3 linked regions of the Homo sapiens genome follow. The protein of the gene in region 1 interacts with the protein of each later gene in a pairwise test. Each region holds a gene or a part of one and is shown in the gene's direction. Other genes may lie near its edges.

Region 1 (7,813 bases):
CAATGGGGAAAGAATAACCTATTCAGTAAGTGGTGCTGGGAAACTGGCTAGCCATATGCGGAAGAACGAAACCAGACCCTATTTCTCACCATATACAAAAATTAACTCAAGATGGATTAAAGACTTAAATGTAAGACCTCGAGCTATAAAAATCCTAGAAAACCTAGGAAGTACTCTTCTAGACATTGGTCTAGGCAAAGAATTCATGGCTAAGTCCTCAAAATCAAACGCCACAGAAACAAAAATTGACAGTTGGGACCTAACTAAACTAAAAAGCTTCTGCACAGCAAAAGCAACTATCAACAGAGTAAACAGACAACCTACTTAAGGGGAGAAAATATTTGCAAACTATGCATCTGACAAACACCTAATATCCAGAATCTATAAGGAACTGAAACAAATCAACAAGAAAAAAAAACAAATAATTCCATTAAAAAGTGGGCAAAAGCATGAACAGACACTTCTAAAAGAAAACATACAAGCCACCAACCAACATATGAAAAAATTATCAAAATCACTAATTATCAGAGAGATGCAAATCAAAATCACAATGAGATACCATCTCACACCAATCAGAATGGCTATTACCAAAAAATCAAACAATAACAGATGTTAGCAAGGTTGTAGAGAAAAGAGAACGCCTATACACTGTTGCTGGGAATGCAAATTAGTTCAGCCCCTGTGGAAGGCAGTTTGGAAATTTCTCAAAGAACTAAAATTAGAAATACTATTCAACCCAGCAATCTCATTACTGGGTACACACTCAAAGGAAAATAAATCATTCTATCAAAAAGACACCTGCACTTGTATGTTTTTTGGGGTTTTGTATTATTTTGTTTTTTTTAAGAGAGTCTTGCTCTGATACACAGGCTGGAATGTAGTGGCATGATCATAGCTCACTGCAGCCTCAAACTCTTGGGCTCAAGCCATCCTCCCTCAGCTTCTCATATAGCTGGGATTACAGGCACGGGCCACCACGCCCAGCTGACTTGAGGGGTTTGTTTATTTTTTTCAGAGAGAGGGTCTCACTTTTCTGCCCAGGCTGGTTTTGAACTCTTGGCTTCAAGCAATCCTCCTGCCTCAGCCTCCCAAAGTGCTAGGATTACAGGTGTGAGCCATCTCACTCAGCCTGTACTTGTGTGTTTATCACAGCACTATTCACAATAGCAAACATACAGAATCAACCCAGCTGCCCATCAATGGTGGGTTAGATTCCTAAAATGTGGTACATATACACCCTGGAATACTATTAATACACAGCCATAAACAAGAAGGAAATCATGTCCTTTGCAGCAACATGGATGCAGGTGGAGGCCATTATTCTAAGCAAGTTAATGCAGAAACAGAAAACCAAATACAGCATATTTATAAGTGGGAGCTAAACATTGGGTACACATGGACACAAAAATGGGAACAATAAACACTGGGAATTCTAAAGGGGGTTAGGGAGAGAGGGCAGCAGGTATTGAAAAACTATCTATCGGATGCCATGTTCACTTATGTTCACTACTTGAGTGATGAAATCATTAGCAGCCCAAACCTCAGCATCACACAGTATACTCATGTAACAAGCCTGCACATGTACCCACTGAATCTAAAATAAAATAAATTTTTTACAGTTATAAATAAATAAAAAGAGTTCAGGAGTTGTTTGCAATTCTCCCCCACTCAACTTTACCCAAGACTGACCAGTAGATAGTCAAGCACTGTATTCAAGAGTTCCTTGGATTTGTTCTTTCTTTTGTTTTTTCCCTTTCTGCGTGGTTATAGTATTTATCTGAAATACCACTGAGGTCACTTGTTTCCATTTGCTTTTGGTTTCAGGCTTTTCTTTTCCTTCTCAACTTGTTATAATTTTATTTTCAAACATGTGGAACATTAGCATGCTCCCAAAAGTCAAAACTATATCATAAAAACTTCTCAGAGAAGTGTCACTCCTTCCAGAATCATTTCCATTCCCCACCCCCAGTAAACAACCAACTTTATTGTTTTCTGGTTTATCCTTCCTGAACTTCGTTTGGTAACAATAAGCAGATAGATGTACATTTTGTTTCCCCTCTTTTCTTTTTTACACAAAAGATAGTATACTATATATCCTCTTATGTACTTAGCATTCCATATCAGTTCATAGAAATCTCCCTTGTTTGCTTTGTTTTTTATAGCTGCATAGTACCTCATTGTGTGTATGAACCATAATTAATTCCACCAATTCTTATTTAGGTAGTTTCCATATTTTACAATTACAAATATGTTGTAATGAATAGCTTCATGCCTATTGTTGGAGGTGTATCTTCAGGGTAAATTTCTAGAAGTAGGATTTCTGGGTGATGGGATGCACATGCAGTTGTGTTAGATATTGCCAAATTCACCAAAGGGGTACACCATTTGGGATTCCCACTAGCAATGAGTGAGAGCGTCTGTTCCCCACAGCATCATCAACAGATTGCACTGTCAAACTTTATAATTTTGTCAGTCTGGTGGATGAGAAGTGATATTTCATTCTAGTTTTAAATTGCATTATGTTTACTATATGTGAAGTTGAACATTTTTTCATATATTTAGGGTCATTCATATGTCTCTCTCTCTCTCTCTCTCTTTTTTTTTTTTTTTTCTTTTTTTGAGGCAGTCTTGCGCTGTCACCCAGCATCGCCCAGGCTGGAGTTCAGTGGCAGGATCATGGCTCACTGCAGCCTCAACTTCCCGGGCTCAAGCAATCCTCCCACCTCGGTCTCCCAAGTAGCTGGGACTACAAGCGCTCACAACCTCGCCCAGCTAATTTTTGTACTTTTCGTAGCAATAAGGTTTCACTGTGTTGCCCAGGCTGGTCTTGAACTCCTGGGCTCAAGTTATCCTCCTGCCTCGGCCTCCTGACGTGCTGGGATTAAGCATCCGGCCATAATCTCATTTTTAAAATTCAGATCTCTAGTCCATCTAGAGTTTATTCTTGTATATGATTTTTAAATAAATATAATTTATATTTTTCTAAATGGCTATCTAGTTTATCCCAACAACATTTCTTAAAAAAATCATCTGTGCCCCAGTGATTACAGATATCACCTTTGTCCTATACTGGAAGTCTATACATAGCTGTGTTTATCTCTAGACTTTCTGTTCTCTTCCATTGGCCTGTTTGTCTAGTCATGCACCAGTACCACATTGTTTTTTTTTGGTTTTTTTGTTTTTTTTAATATACTTTAAGTTCTAGCGTACATGTGCACAACGTGCGGGTTTGTTACATATGTATACATGTGCCATGTTGTTTTAATCATAGAGGCTTTGTAGTATGCTTTATATCAATTAGGGCTAGCACCACCTCAGAGCTCTTCCTTTTCAGGGTTTTCCTAGCTAGTCTTGTGTATTTTTTTCCCATATAAACTTTAATATCAACTTGTGTTGGTCTTTTAAAATACTCATGGTTATTTGTATTAAATTTATAAATTAACTTATAACGGACATCTTGATCAATTTAAGATGTGCCAAAAATAAGGCATGTTGTTCCATTGGGGAAGTTATTGGCACTTCGAGATCCGATGTTCTCTCTTAGATACTTCCTTAGGTAGTTTAGGTCATTAAATAAAATAATAAATATTTCTTGAGCAGCTACTATGCCCTTGGCACTATATTAAGCACGATAGAAGTAAAAAACCAGATTCTGTCCTCAAGCAGCTTAGAATTTCACGAGAGAAACAGACTAACACACCAAAAGCAAAGCAGGCATGCTGTATGAGCAAAGAGGAAATGGGGAGTAAGGAGGGCTAGAGCCACAAGGTAGTGAGACTGGAATCATGTGCCCTGAGGTTGTGTAAGATTTAGGCAGGGCAGCAAGGAGAAGGAAGGGATCCCAGTGAGGGGAACCCTGGCAAAAGCTCAGAGGAGGACTGAGTGTGACAGGTTTCACAGGGCAGAGGGCCCCATCCAGACTGTTAGCTGGAATCCTGGATGAGGCCCTCTTCCAGTCTCCGAGAGTTATGCCTCCATATTAACAGTCCCCAAACACTAATTATGTATTCATTAAAATGATGTTAGTGAATGTTTGCTGGGTTTCCAGATACTAGCCCTTTAGAATGGTAATTTCTGTACATTGTTACCTTTTCAGGGAATGGCCTTGAGTTGTGCCATCCAATACAGTAGCTACTTGCCATGTGTGGCTGTGGAGCCCTTATGATATGGATAGTGCAACTGAGCAACTGAATTTCTAATTTTATGTAATTTGAATTCACTAAATTTTAATTTTAAAATGAAAGTAGTATAAAATATTTTTCATTAAACCCAACTTTATTGTGTGGGGAGGGCTACATTTTAAACATAGTATTGTATAACATATGATTGCTGTATCACAGTATGTGTGTCCAATTTACTTTTTTTAATGTGGCTACCAGAAAATTTTAAATGACATATGCTGCCCACATTGCATTTTGCTTTGACAGCACTGGTCTAGAGTCTCACAACTCAGTGTGGTCTGGCTGGACTCACGTGAGAGCCATCCCAGACTCTGCACTTGACTAAGTCAGGATCTGCACTTGACTAAGTTCCCCAGGTGAATCTTATGCACAATAAGATAAGCACTGATCTGGACGACCTCAGAAGACATCCAGCCACTGGTAGGTACCCAGCATGACCCCCCCCAATCCTTATGGGAGGAGGCTGAGGGAGCAACAGGGAGACCCCTGACTGCCGTTGTGACATCACAGAATAAACCCCACGGGTCACCCAACCCCGCCCTGGCTGGTGTCTGGCCCTCAGGACATCCTCTCCAATCCACCACACACCACCTTACCCCTCTGCTGGCAAGAGGGGACCTGATTCATCCTCACGCTAAACACTCATTCTACCCAACTGATTGAGACAGAACAGAAGATAAACTGAAACTTCTCTGCCTTCCCGCTGCAAGAGTGAATGAGCGATCCCTCTCAACTGACTCAAAATGTTTGCCTCACCCAGGAGGTAGGTACAGTGATTTTGAAATCTCATGAACATCTCATACACATATCTTTACTGCTGGATTTGTAACACAGGTTACACTAACTCATCAATTTCATGTATTTCACATGGTCACAGTAAAGAGCTTGGAAATGCACTATAGGGTTCTACAAAATGGAATGAAAATGTGTCACTCAGCCCAGTTTTCATAGATAAAACTGGTATGTCCATACCTTGGCCTATTACCTTTTCATCTTCCTTCATTAAAACTTCCATTTCTTCTTCCCTTGTCTCATCATCTTCCTTCTCCTTTCTGTTCCCAGGGCTCCCTATGCCTCTCCTTTTTTCCTTTCATCTGCATTATTCCCGTTGCCAAAATCTGGAGCCTGGTAAAGGCCCAGTAGCGGTGGCAACAATAGAGCTGTGTGTCACCCCAGTGAGCTGAAAGAGCAGACATCAAGCTCTATGCCAGAGAACAGTGGGGCATCCCCAAGGTCCTGCTGGAAGGCAGCTCTGATCTGGAACTGGGAAGGACAACACACAGTCAAGCTCTTTCTCGTCTCAGAGAATCCAGCAGAATCTTCAGGGATCCTTCCAGACCAGGAAGACTCTCACACTCTGCAGAGAAGTTGCGGCTTGTTTAGCATTTGACCTACATTCAGAAACGACCAGCCTCCCAACTTTCAGCTCTAAGGATTACTTAAAAAAACAAATGGTGTTCATTCTCAGATATCTTGCCTTTCTCAGGAGAGAAAAATGAAGCTTGCAATTAGCCAGCAAACTAGCACATACACAAACACACACACACGTACATACACTCCAACACAGGGAGCAATGTGGTATGTTGTTGACCAGCTGGAAGTTAGGATCTCAAAGGAAAGAACAGGATAACTTAAGAGGCACTTCTGGGACTGCAGAGCTGAGCTGGTGGTTCTGAAGAGCCATCGGAGTGTGGGTTCAGGCAGCTTCCCTAATTCAGAAGCAGCCCCAAGTGAATAGATGACAAAGAAGTGGATGTGAACATGACAGAAAAAGCCAGTCATGGCTTAGAATAAATTTTATTATTGTTCTTTATCAGTGGTTTTCCAGGAGAGACACAGAGGGAATATGGGAGCGTCTGGTTGCTAATATGTACCTGAGAAGTATAAAGTACACTTAATCCATTGCCTCAATCTGCAGGAGGTCCCATAAATCTGGCCTGCAATCTGTACATTTTGTTAAAGGTGACTGTGCCTTGGCTTTTACTGAGTGGCAGCCTGGTGATGAGTCAGGCGAACAGTCCTCAAAGATTGCCAGTGTTGACTTTACCATTTACTAGCTTTGTGGCCTTGAGCAAGTCAAACCCTCCGAATCGGAACCCTCACTTGTAGAATGGGGATGCCACGTCCCTTTCAGGCTGGTTGTGAGGATTAAGGAAGATGTCTGAAGGGTCTAGCAAGGTGTCTGCTGGTAGCACAGGTGCACTTCCCCTTCGTTTCTGCTTAGAGGCACTCTTCTTCTACCTGTTTTCGATTTTCACAGAACTAAGAAGGACAACTCTTTGCCCTCATTTACCCCTGAGGGTAAATTTAACCCTCTGGGAGGTTAAGTAACTTGGCCAAAATCCTCAGTGCAGTCGTGCATTGGGTCGTAAATAGAACTCGGATCTGCTGAGGGGTCTGGGTGGTGAAGTCCCGCCCTGGGGTCTTCCCAATGAGACGCAGACATCCCCTTCCCTTAGAACGGGAGCCTGGGACCCATAGCTTTACCGGGCAGAGGCAGGGAAATGCCTGACTTTGGACTCCAGCAGCTCGACACATCCCGAGCCCTGGCCCACCGGCCTGGGTGTAAGGAATCCCTCCGACTACCCAGTCTCTCCGCCCTCCCGCGCAGCCTCGCCAGGCGGCAGAGGGGACGCGCCTCAGGTGGCCTAGCGCCCCGGCCCAGCTCCGGGACACATGTGGCCCCGCCCTCCGCGGCTCGCCGGGTCCCTGGCCTGCCCTGGCAGTCCCTGCTCTCTGGGAGGGCCCCCGGGACACCGTTCTCAACCGACGGAGGAAGACCCAGAGGAAGAAACAGCCCGGGTACCCCCGCCCGACCCGGTCAGGAAGCCATGGGTGGTTGGCGGCCGCGGGGCGGGGCCTCGCAAACAATGCCAAACACGGCCGGCCTGTCGCCGCGGCAACGCGCCCCGCTGCTAGGCGACCGGGCGCCGTAGTAAACGGGAGAGACGGCGCGTTACTCATCAGGGTGGGAGGGCGCGCTCGGAAGTGGAGATGGCGCGGCCCAGGCACCCCCGAGAGGCCCCACCCGTTACGCCCCCGCCCCGCCCCGCGGTCCCCAAGCGCCCCCGGCCCCAGCCGGCCTGCTGGCGCCGTCACCCGCGCGTGAGCGATTGCCCCACAGGATGTGCAGATGTGGCTGCCCCTCTGATTCACTCCAGCTGCTTGGGGCCTGGAAGAAAGGCGGCTTCCTCTCCTGGAAATGACTGCATTAGCAAAAGTCCTCAAACAATTCCATTAAAAGGCGGAAAGGGAAAGACGAGAACGAGGCCCCGATACGCTTTTCCAGGGTCCTTCCCACTGAATTGAAGTGTTCCCAAAACTCGGGACCTACGTTAGGAAGACTAGAGTCATTTGATTGTGCGACCATTTGAGGTGATGTGGCCCCTTAAACGTGGTTACAGCTGAGAATAAATCCCGGAGCTAAGTGCCCTACAGTGATGTAGTCATTTTGAACACTAAGCACGGGCATTTTGGTGGCATTACTCTTCCCTTCCGGGCTGGGAAACAAATGTGAAAATGTCCCGTGTGAAGACCATCTTTGTCCTCATCAGTGAAAGAGTATAAGGTCAGGCACTGATGTAAACATTGCAGTTAGAGCAGCAAAAGCTCAGAAGTTTGGAGATACATTA
Region 2 (5,620 bases), on another chromosome or scaffold:
TCTGGCCTGACGGAACGTCCAGCTACACACTGGTTTCTGGGACCCCATGAATTTCTTAGGCTGTGCATTAAACTTGAGCCAAAGAATACCTGCTCTTTGTAGTAATGTTTGCAGAAGGCCTATCCTGAGAATGGTCCTACTGCATCCAGGGAGCAAAATGTATAAAAGGGAAATAAAGGCGCCTCTTAATTATCTGCCCTGAAGAGATGGAGCCAAGAGAAAAAATACCTCAACTTCACTCCTCCCCTGCCCTCCCATATCCTGCCAGTGCCTCCCGTTGACTGAATGCAACTAGAAGCCAGACAGCACAAGGGACCTAGGGGTGCAGTACATACAGGTCAACCTCCCCCTCCCAGTGTGCCAAGTAAGATGGAGAAAAGCAGAGAGTAGTCTTAGAGAGGTAGATGGAGATTATTCAGCACACTGAATAGAAATGAAAAGTTATAACCTTAGAAACAATTCCTATTTAACTGACGAATATCAGCCATCAACTTACATACAATGGGCATGTCTAAGTTCTGAGGGTTTTCCTTTGCTCCTCAAGACAGTGATTCTTCTTTTTTCCCCCAAAATCAGAACAGCAAGGAATTAGAGACTGGAAAGAGCATTTTCTTCTTTAGAATATGGTATGGGTGTGAGTGTTGGACGTCTCAGTAGTGTCCAACCAAATAGGAGCAACCATTGTCCTACGGCCTTTGTGCTAAAAAGTTGTCCCATAGTAGGGCCAAGAAGAATGCATTAGAGCGTCCCTACATCTGATCACCAGCTGGAAGGAAACTTCTCTGGAAGATGAAGCCCATGGCCCAGTCCTGGATACTCCACACTCTTAGTATCTGTGGATCCGAACACCCCTTCCAGGGGTATGATTCAGGGAGCACAAAAGTGCTGATGAGAGGATCCTTCATCCTGGCTCCAAAAGCTCAGGTTCCTACCTCTTTCCCAGGGTTAACTTTACTCAGACCATGAACCTCAGCCTGTCAAACTCCCATCTGAGTCAGTCAACCTTCCACCCCTCAAATCTCTGTTAACTACATTCTCTGCCTGGAAACTCTCATCACTTCCCTGGTTCTCAGCTGGTTCCAGTTTTCTACAGACCTTTACTGGTCACCCCTACTTCTCTATCCTCCCCAGTTTGCATCAGGCCAGCCTCAGCCCCACTGTGGCTACAGTGTTCTGCTGGTGAGGTACCTCTGTGGCCTGCTCCCTGGATATCCACTTCCTCTGCTAGTTTTCGTTGGTCTCCTACAGCCCTGGACTACTCCCTGCCTCCTTCTCCTCAGAGAGGCTATCTTTCCATAGTCCATATAGAATTCCACAGTCAGGAATTCTATGCCTTTAGGTCCTAAGTAATTTTCTGGAATCATATCTCAGGTGAGCAACCCATAAAAGTGCTCACTTTACCAAGTCAACTTCCCTGGGCTTCAGTTGTGTTCCTGGTCGGGTGGGGGTGGACCTGGGGAGTGCTAAAGAATAATTACGAGGAAAAAAGTAAAATCATGACTCTCATATAAATATAAAATATGTGCATGAAACATTTTATTTAACTTATTAATTAATGAGGAAACTAGTAAGATGTTACAAATGGCTCAAAGGAGAATTCAAAGAGCCATACATATGTAGGAATAAGGAATATTGAAATAAGGAATGTACAAATAGATGCAAAATAAGTCAAAAATCAATTGCATTTCACCAGACATTTATTTGCATTTCTGTGGACAAGAATTGTTTGCATTATTATTAGTTTTCTACAATCTGAAGAGTTAGAAAATAACTCTAAGTCAATGAAAGATGGAGATAACCCAGAAAGGTACTCTAAAAACCACATCCAGGAAATTGTTTTTGCTGATTTTAAAGTCTTTCACAATTTTTTGTGATAGGAGAAAGGTCTCTTCCCTTTCCCACAAAAAACTACATCTAGTATAATAAATAGCACAAGCATTGTCTGTGATGTGAGAACAGGAATTTTTGCTTGTGGAGTCCAATATATGTGTCCTCTTTATCTCTAAACCTTGATAAGGGATAGAGGCCTCCTCCCTCTTAGAGCATTGCTACTCAGAATGTGGTCTGGCATCACCTGAGATGCTTAGAAATTCTGATTTGGAGCCCCAGCCTAAATCAAAATCTTTATTTTTAAACGTCCTGGACCCAAATAAATTAAAAGACATCCCATGTTTATGGACTAGAAGAGTTAATATTAAGATACCAATATTCCCACAAATGACTTACAGGTTTAATGCAATCCCTAACAAAATCCCAGTAGGCTGGTTTTTAAAAAAAAAAAAAAAAAAAAAAACGAAATTGACAAGCATATCCTAAAATTCATAGGAAATTCAAGGGACCCAGAATAGCCAAAGCAATCTCTGCAGAAGAGCAGAGTTGGATGACTATACTTCCCAATTTCAAAACTTACTACAAAGCTATAGTAATCAAGCCAGTGTTGTGCCAGCATCAGTTTAGACACATAGATTGACAGAACAGAATTGGGAGTCCCGAAATAAACCCATACATCTATGGTCAATTGATTTTTGACAAGTGTGCCAAGACCATCTAGTGGAGAAAGAATGGTCTTCTCAACAAATGGTGCTAGGACAACTGGATATCCACACACAAAGGAATGAAATTGGACAATGACCTCATATCATATACAAAAATTAACTCAAAATGAGTTAGAAACTTAAATGTAAAAGCTAAAACTGTAAAATTATTCAAAGAAAACCTGGACATAAATGTTTATGACCTTGAATTAGGCAATGGTTTCTTAGATAGGACACTAAAAGCACAAGTGACAAGAGAAAAACAGAAAAATTGAACATAATTAAGAACTTTGTGCTTCAAAGGACACCATTAAGAAAGTGAAAAAAAAAACAGAATGAGAGAAAATATTTGCAAATCATATATCTGAAAAAGGACTGGCACACATAATATATATAGAACTCTTAAAACTCAGCAATAAAAGTACAAATAACCCAATTTTAAAATGGACAAAAGACTTGAATAGAGTTTTCTCCAAAGAAGATACAAATGACTATGAAAAGATGCTCAACATCAATAGCCATTATGGAAATGCAAATCAAAACCACAGTGAGATACCACTTTACATCCACTAGAAAAACAACAAAGACAATGACAGTGTTGGAACCTTCATACATTGTTAGTGGGCATGTAAAATGATGAGGGGACTTTGGAAAACAGTCTAGCAGTTCCTCAAAATGTTAAACAGAGTCTTAACATATGACCCAGCAATTCTAGTCCCAGGTATATACCCAAGGGAGTTGAAAACATATGTCTATTATAAAAATCCTCATAGCTGCATTAGTCATAATAGTCACAAAATGGAAACAACTCAAATGCCCATCGACTGATGAATGAGTAAATAAAATGTGGTATATCCATACAATGAAATATAATTCAGCCATAAAAAAGACAAAAGTTAAAGACATTATGCTAAATGAAAGAGGCCATATAAAGGCCGCATATAGTATGATTTATTTGAAATGTCCAGAGTAAGCAAATCTCTAGAAACAGAGATTTCATTTGTGGTTGTCGGGCCAGTGAGGAAGGCGAGATGGGCAGTAACTACTCATGGGTAGGGGATTTCATTTTGGAATAAGGAAAACGTTCTGAAATTAGATTTTTGGTGATGGGGTGATAGTTACACAACTTCATGAATATACTAAAAACCATGGAAATGTTTCAGAGGGTGAATTTTATGGCAGAGGAATTGTATCTCAATAGTGCAGTTTGTTGTTGTTGTTTGACACAAGTCTTGCTCTGTTGCCCAGGCTGGCGTGTAACGGCACAATCCCAGCTCACTGCAACCTCCGCCTCTTGGGTTCAAGCAATTCTCCTGCCTCAGCCTCCCGAGTAGCTGGGACTACAGGTGCGCGCGCCAGCATGCCTGGCTAATTTTTTTTGTATTTTTAGTAGAGACGGGGTTTCACCATGTTGGTCAGGTTGGTCTCCATGTCCTGACCTCGTGATCCGCCCGCCCCGGCCTCCCAAAGTGCTGGGATTACACGCGTGAGCTACCGTGCCCGGCCTAGAGCAGTTATTTTTAAAAGATGGTCTTGAAACATTCAGCGCCAAGTGGCCGGGATTTCCGACGGAAGTCAGCGCTTGTGCCCCCACCCCCTTGCCCCGCAACTCTGTCCCCCGCCGCCCCTCCCCCCACCGACAGAGCGCGCTCCTCCCTAACGGTCGCCACTGCCCACTTCCACTGCCCACTTCCGGTTTCATCGCACACCCGCCTTTCACTATCCGCCATTCTTGTCACCTCAGCTGCTGCCCTCGCTACCGCACCGACTTCGCCCGTGTGCTCGCCTGCACTTGCGCTGCCCGCCATGGCCACCGCCCAGCCGTCGCAGGTGCGCCAGAAGTACGACACCAACTGCGACGCCGCCATCAACAGCCACATCACGCTGGAGCTCTACACCTCCTACCTGTACCTGTCTATGGCCTTCTACTTCAACCGGGACGACGTGGCCCTGGAGAACTTCTTCCGCTACTTCCTGCGCCTGTCGGACGACAAAATGGAGCATGCCCAGAAGCTGATGAGGCTGCAGAACCTGCGCGGTGGCCACATCTGCCTTCACGATATCAGGAAGCCAGAGTGCCAAGGCTGGGAGAGCGGGCTCGTGGCCATGGAGTCCGCCTTCCACCTGGAGAAGAACGTCAACCAGAGCCTGCTGGATCTGTACCAGCTGGCCGTGGAGAAGGGCGACCCCCAGCTGTGCCACTTCCTGGAGAGCCACTACCTGCACGAGCAAGTCAAGACCATCAAAGAGCTGGGTGGCTACGTGAGCAACCTGCGCAAGATTTGTTCCCCGGAAGCCGGCCTGGCTGAGTACCTGTTCGACAAGCTCACCCTGGGCGGCCGCGTCAAAGAGACTTGAGCCCAGATGGGCCCCACAGCCACGGGGTCCCTTCCCTGGGTCAGGCCACTAGGCGGGGCGTGCATGTTGCCCTTTCAGAACGTTCTCTTCAGTTTTATCTTTCAGTTTTACCATTGTTAGCAAAAAAGTTATCTGGTTCTCAAAGCAATAAAGGTGTCCATTTGATACACCTGCAACTCTCACCTTTTAGGAATCAGGGCAAATCCCCATGCAGGTTTAAAGTAGGTATCCAGCAGTCTCTCCACCCACCCCTGCCCCATCTGCATGCAGCTCAGGATTTGCAGGGGTGGAGTGGAATGGTATTTTATGGGCCCCTGGAAAACACATTAGTCTTCCCTTTGTAAACTACCAGGGTATGTGGGGTGGGATGGGGTGGGGTGGTCACTCTTGGGCCCTGGTGGCTGTGGGTGCATGGGCACGGTAAAGTGTAAAACGTGGTCTGGAATTCATCATAGTGGTTGCCTCTGGGGAAGAAGTGAAGGAAATGGGATTGGGCAAGGATTAAAATAAACAAAGGGTCTTCAACTTTACATGAAAACTTGTAGTTTATTAAAATATGCCAATGTTAATGTTTGTGGATTCTGAGTAGCAAGTGGGGGCTCTGGGTGACAGCACAGCAGGGTACTTCTTTGGCAAGCTCACTTTGGGTGACAGTTGTAGTGGGAGCCTTAAGCTGGCTTCCCCATAGCCAAGGGGCTGACAAACTAAAATGGCACTTTGCAAGTCCA
Region 3 (3,434 bases), on another chromosome or scaffold:
GAAGACGTGATCCCAAATTTAGTGACTCTGTAGTGTCTTTTGTTGAGCAATGAGTTAAATACCTGTCGATAAAAAGTGTTAATTATGTTATTACTGATTCATGATAGAAAATCACCTTCTGTCGCTAGTTTATATGACTTTACATTTACCACTCCTGCCAAGAGAAAGGAAGCTTTGTGATTGTGCCCCGTCATAGTTAATTGTACAAATCAATTAAAAATGGTATGTAAGCATCTGGCTCACACAGCAGCTCTGAATTCTGAATGAAAAGATAACCCATGCTAATGTATATGTTGCATGAACAAGTAGATGGGTGTTGGAAAGAAAACACTGATAGTCACTCTGGGTGAAGGGGGAGGCCTGGCCAATGATTTGTATCTGAGAAACATTTTGAGATTATTTATATGTCTTCTGACTGCCCTTTGCTTTGTAGCTACAGCAACTTGCAGAACCTGGCATTATTGCAGAGATGAAGGTATAGTTGTATAAAGAATATTGGATTAAAGTTGATGAGGCCTGTGTTCTGATATCAAATCTTCCACTAATGAGCTCTAAAATGAATATCAAGTCACAATTTTTTCAAGCCTTCATTGTTGCATCTATCAGATGGGAATAGTAATACTCATTTTACCTATTTTTACCAGGTGGTTGTAGGAACAGGATTCATTCATTCCTTCATTAATATAATGAACACTTTGAGACCCCACTATATAACAGGGCCATACATATGACAAGGTGATAGATGGAAAGACGTTTTGCAGAATTTTTGAAGACTTGCAATGTTTTTGAAGACTACAGGATAGTTTGTGATTTTTATATTAAGGTCGTATCAACTCTTTATGTCAATATATCAAAGTAATTGACACTTTTAGAGCTCTGCCAATCAGTGGGCCATATTCATAGAATGTCAGTAATCTGTCTGAATACAAGTTATAGTTGGTCTTTAGCTGTTCTGTCTCTGAGGAGCTAGAAATAAAATATTAGGTTCTAATTTTTTTTTGTTCAAACACTGATCATGTAACAAACTGCAAATCCATGTTTTCAGCAGGTTCGCCAACCTTTGAGTTGAATGCAGACCTTTCTTTAGAACAACCTAACTTTGAGTACAGGCAAAGTATTAAATGGAATAGCTTTTCCTCCCCTACAAAGTGGATTTGAATACAGTCCTTAGAAAAATTCTTCCCCTGCCAAAAAAGGTCCTTCAATCTCCTTTATTATTTTTCTTTTGAAGAATCAAACTTGTCCATCTCTCCCCTCCCAAGTGACTTTCCTCACTCATGTAATCATTTTCTTCATAAATGCCCTTTTACTATCCCACAGAAAAAGTAAAGATTTAAAAAATCATTTTTAAGGTACATCCAAGATTTCATAGCAATATTTTATTTGTGTTCACAGTGCAAGATAAATCTGACTTTCTCAATATTTTTGGTCTTCATATGGCATCTGAAACAGTTGTTCACATTCACACATTTATGTTTCACCATATGCATACTGTGTACAGCTCTGTTGTTCTAAAATATTTTATTGGTTTTCCTTTATATCTCAACTTTTGATGGGTGTCCTTGAAGAACTTTCATGAAAAAAATGTAAATGTGAATGATTCATTCATTTTGAACATATGTAACTATTTTAGGAGATTTTCAGGAGATTTTACCCTACATGGAGTACACTGTTCTTAGCAGGGAATGTGCTTTATATTACTATTCTACTCACAGCTGGATGCTGCAGATGTATTAACATTGTAAACATGTACTTTTTCTATTCTATGCTTACTTTAATACATTATTTATATGTGCTAGACTGTGCTGAGTTTTGGTGGTTGTCAAAGGCAGTCAGTAATTTTATAAATTTCACTTTTGTGGATAGTTAAGTATAACATGGTTTAGTATAAAATCTGGTCTTCCTCTAGATTTCTAAGTCACTAGAAGAATTTCTTGGCAAATTGATTGTTCAAGGCCAGTTTTGTTAGTTGTAAGGTGGAAGCCACCCCAATCCTCTCCCAGTGTTTCATAGGCATTTTCAGACCTGGATGCTATTATAGTTCCTCCTCTAGTTTTCCAGTAGAGAATTCGTATGTGGTCCAGAGGTTCAAGAGAGAGAGAGAAAAAATTTCTCCTCAAAAGAATTGAACCCTTACTTTAGAAACTTCTGACAATCTTCAGAACATTCCATGTGGGTGTCCTTGTGTTTCTCATAGTATGACTTATTGATTCATGGTGTCTCTTATTAAAGAAGCATGAATGTATCACTAGCTGTTACCAGAACAAACAGCTGTAGAATGTAATGACCCATCCTATTTCTAAATTTACTTCTATCAGTGGATAATTTGTGTATAGGAAAAGGTGTGGAAATTTTTTAATTGTTAAAAACTGGAATACCTTTCTACCTTTTGTAGTCTTTAAGATTTCATAATGATGGTTTTAATGTATTACTATCTTACTATTATGTATTGTGTTTAAACAAGACCAATCAGTGAAATATTGAATGTCAATACTTTTTGTTAGAAATGCCCTCTGAAAATGTTAGAAAATGTAAAACTTTACCTGTGACAAGGAATAAATTCATGATTAGAAGAATTATACTGTTTTTCTTGTGCAAATAATACTTAAGGCAGATGTTCAGTCTCACAGTGATGTTGGAAAGCATATTTTATGCAGTCTAAACACTATTTCTGTATTAGATATTTAAATGCATGAGGATAAATTCTAATTGCTTTTTGTTTAAAACAGAAACATAGAAGAAGCATTAGCCCCAGTTTGTATAAAATGTCTGCTGCAACTGAATTCATGATAGTTCATGAAAACTGAAAATCATTCCAATTTTGTAAAACTGCTGCTACTGGTTTTATCAATAAAGTTTTAGCAGATGGCTTATATGTACATGTGTGAAAATTTTTTATGTTAAAAAAAGATACAGTTTTGCAGCATCAACATGCAAATTTTATGGGCCTGAATGATACTGCTTATTTTAGTATATACAAAAACCATTAACTTCAAAACCATACCAACTGCAGACATATATTTTAGAACTATAAGCATTACATGTATGATCCATACAGTTTATTTGGTTTCAGGGTGCTGTAGGCTTTTATGGTGAACACATATACAAATCAACATATACCAGTTCAAATGCTGACTTGAAGAACATCAGGTAAGGAGCTATATAAATGTAAGGATCACCTGAATTAATTAAATTGCATCTAAAGGGGATTCTGAGAAGGCAAACTGCAAAGTGTAGGTGTTCATGTACAAAAGTGTATGTAATTCCTCATTAGAGAAGCTCTTGTCCAGAACACTTTCCCCTCTATGAATACCCAGTTCTCAAAAGTTAACAAGGCTCAGATGCAACAAGCTAGAAGTAGAGGGAGCTGAGTTATTATATTCGGACACCTACATAGCACTCAAAACATGGCTGACTTCCCCCAAACAGAAAAG

What was found. The genes of interacting proteins can lie anywhere in the genome.
Region 2: the proteins of GSG1 (region 1) and FTHL17 interact in binary tests that used the Homo sapiens proteins (3 or more experiments, as listed by UniProt).
Region 3: the proteins of GSG1 (region 1) and SYT16 interact in binary tests that used the Homo sapiens proteins (3 or more experiments, as listed by UniProt).

Annotation. Positions count from the first base shown.
Region 1 is NC_000012.12:13,100,596-13,108,408, reverse strand, and holds the start of GSG1 (germ cell-specific gene 1 protein), read left to right. Parts: upstream 1-4,741; 5' UTR 4,742-4,896; coding exon 4,897-4,944; intron 4,945-5,058; exon of another isoform or gene 5,059-5,141; intron 5,142-5,243; coding exon of another isoform or gene 5,244-5,324; exon of another isoform or gene 5,325-6,422; intron 6,423-6,668; exon of another isoform or gene 6,669-6,979; intron 6,980-7,813. UniProt on the Homo sapiens protein: May cause the redistribution of PAPOLB from the cytosol to the endoplasmic reticulum.
Region 2 is NC_000023.11:31,070,674-31,076,293, reverse strand, and holds FTHL17 (ferritin heavy polypeptide-like 17), read left to right. Parts: upstream 1-4,252; 5' UTR 4,253-4,340; coding exon 4,341-4,892; 3' UTR 4,893-5,061; downstream 5,062-5,620.
Region 3 is NC_000014.9:62,109,676-62,113,109, forward strand, and holds the end of SYT16 (synaptotagmin-16), read left to right. Parts: 3' UTR 1-2,875; downstream 2,876-3,434. UniProt on the Homo sapiens protein: May be involved in the trafficking and exocytosis of secretory vesicles in non-neuronal tissues. Is Ca(2+)-independent.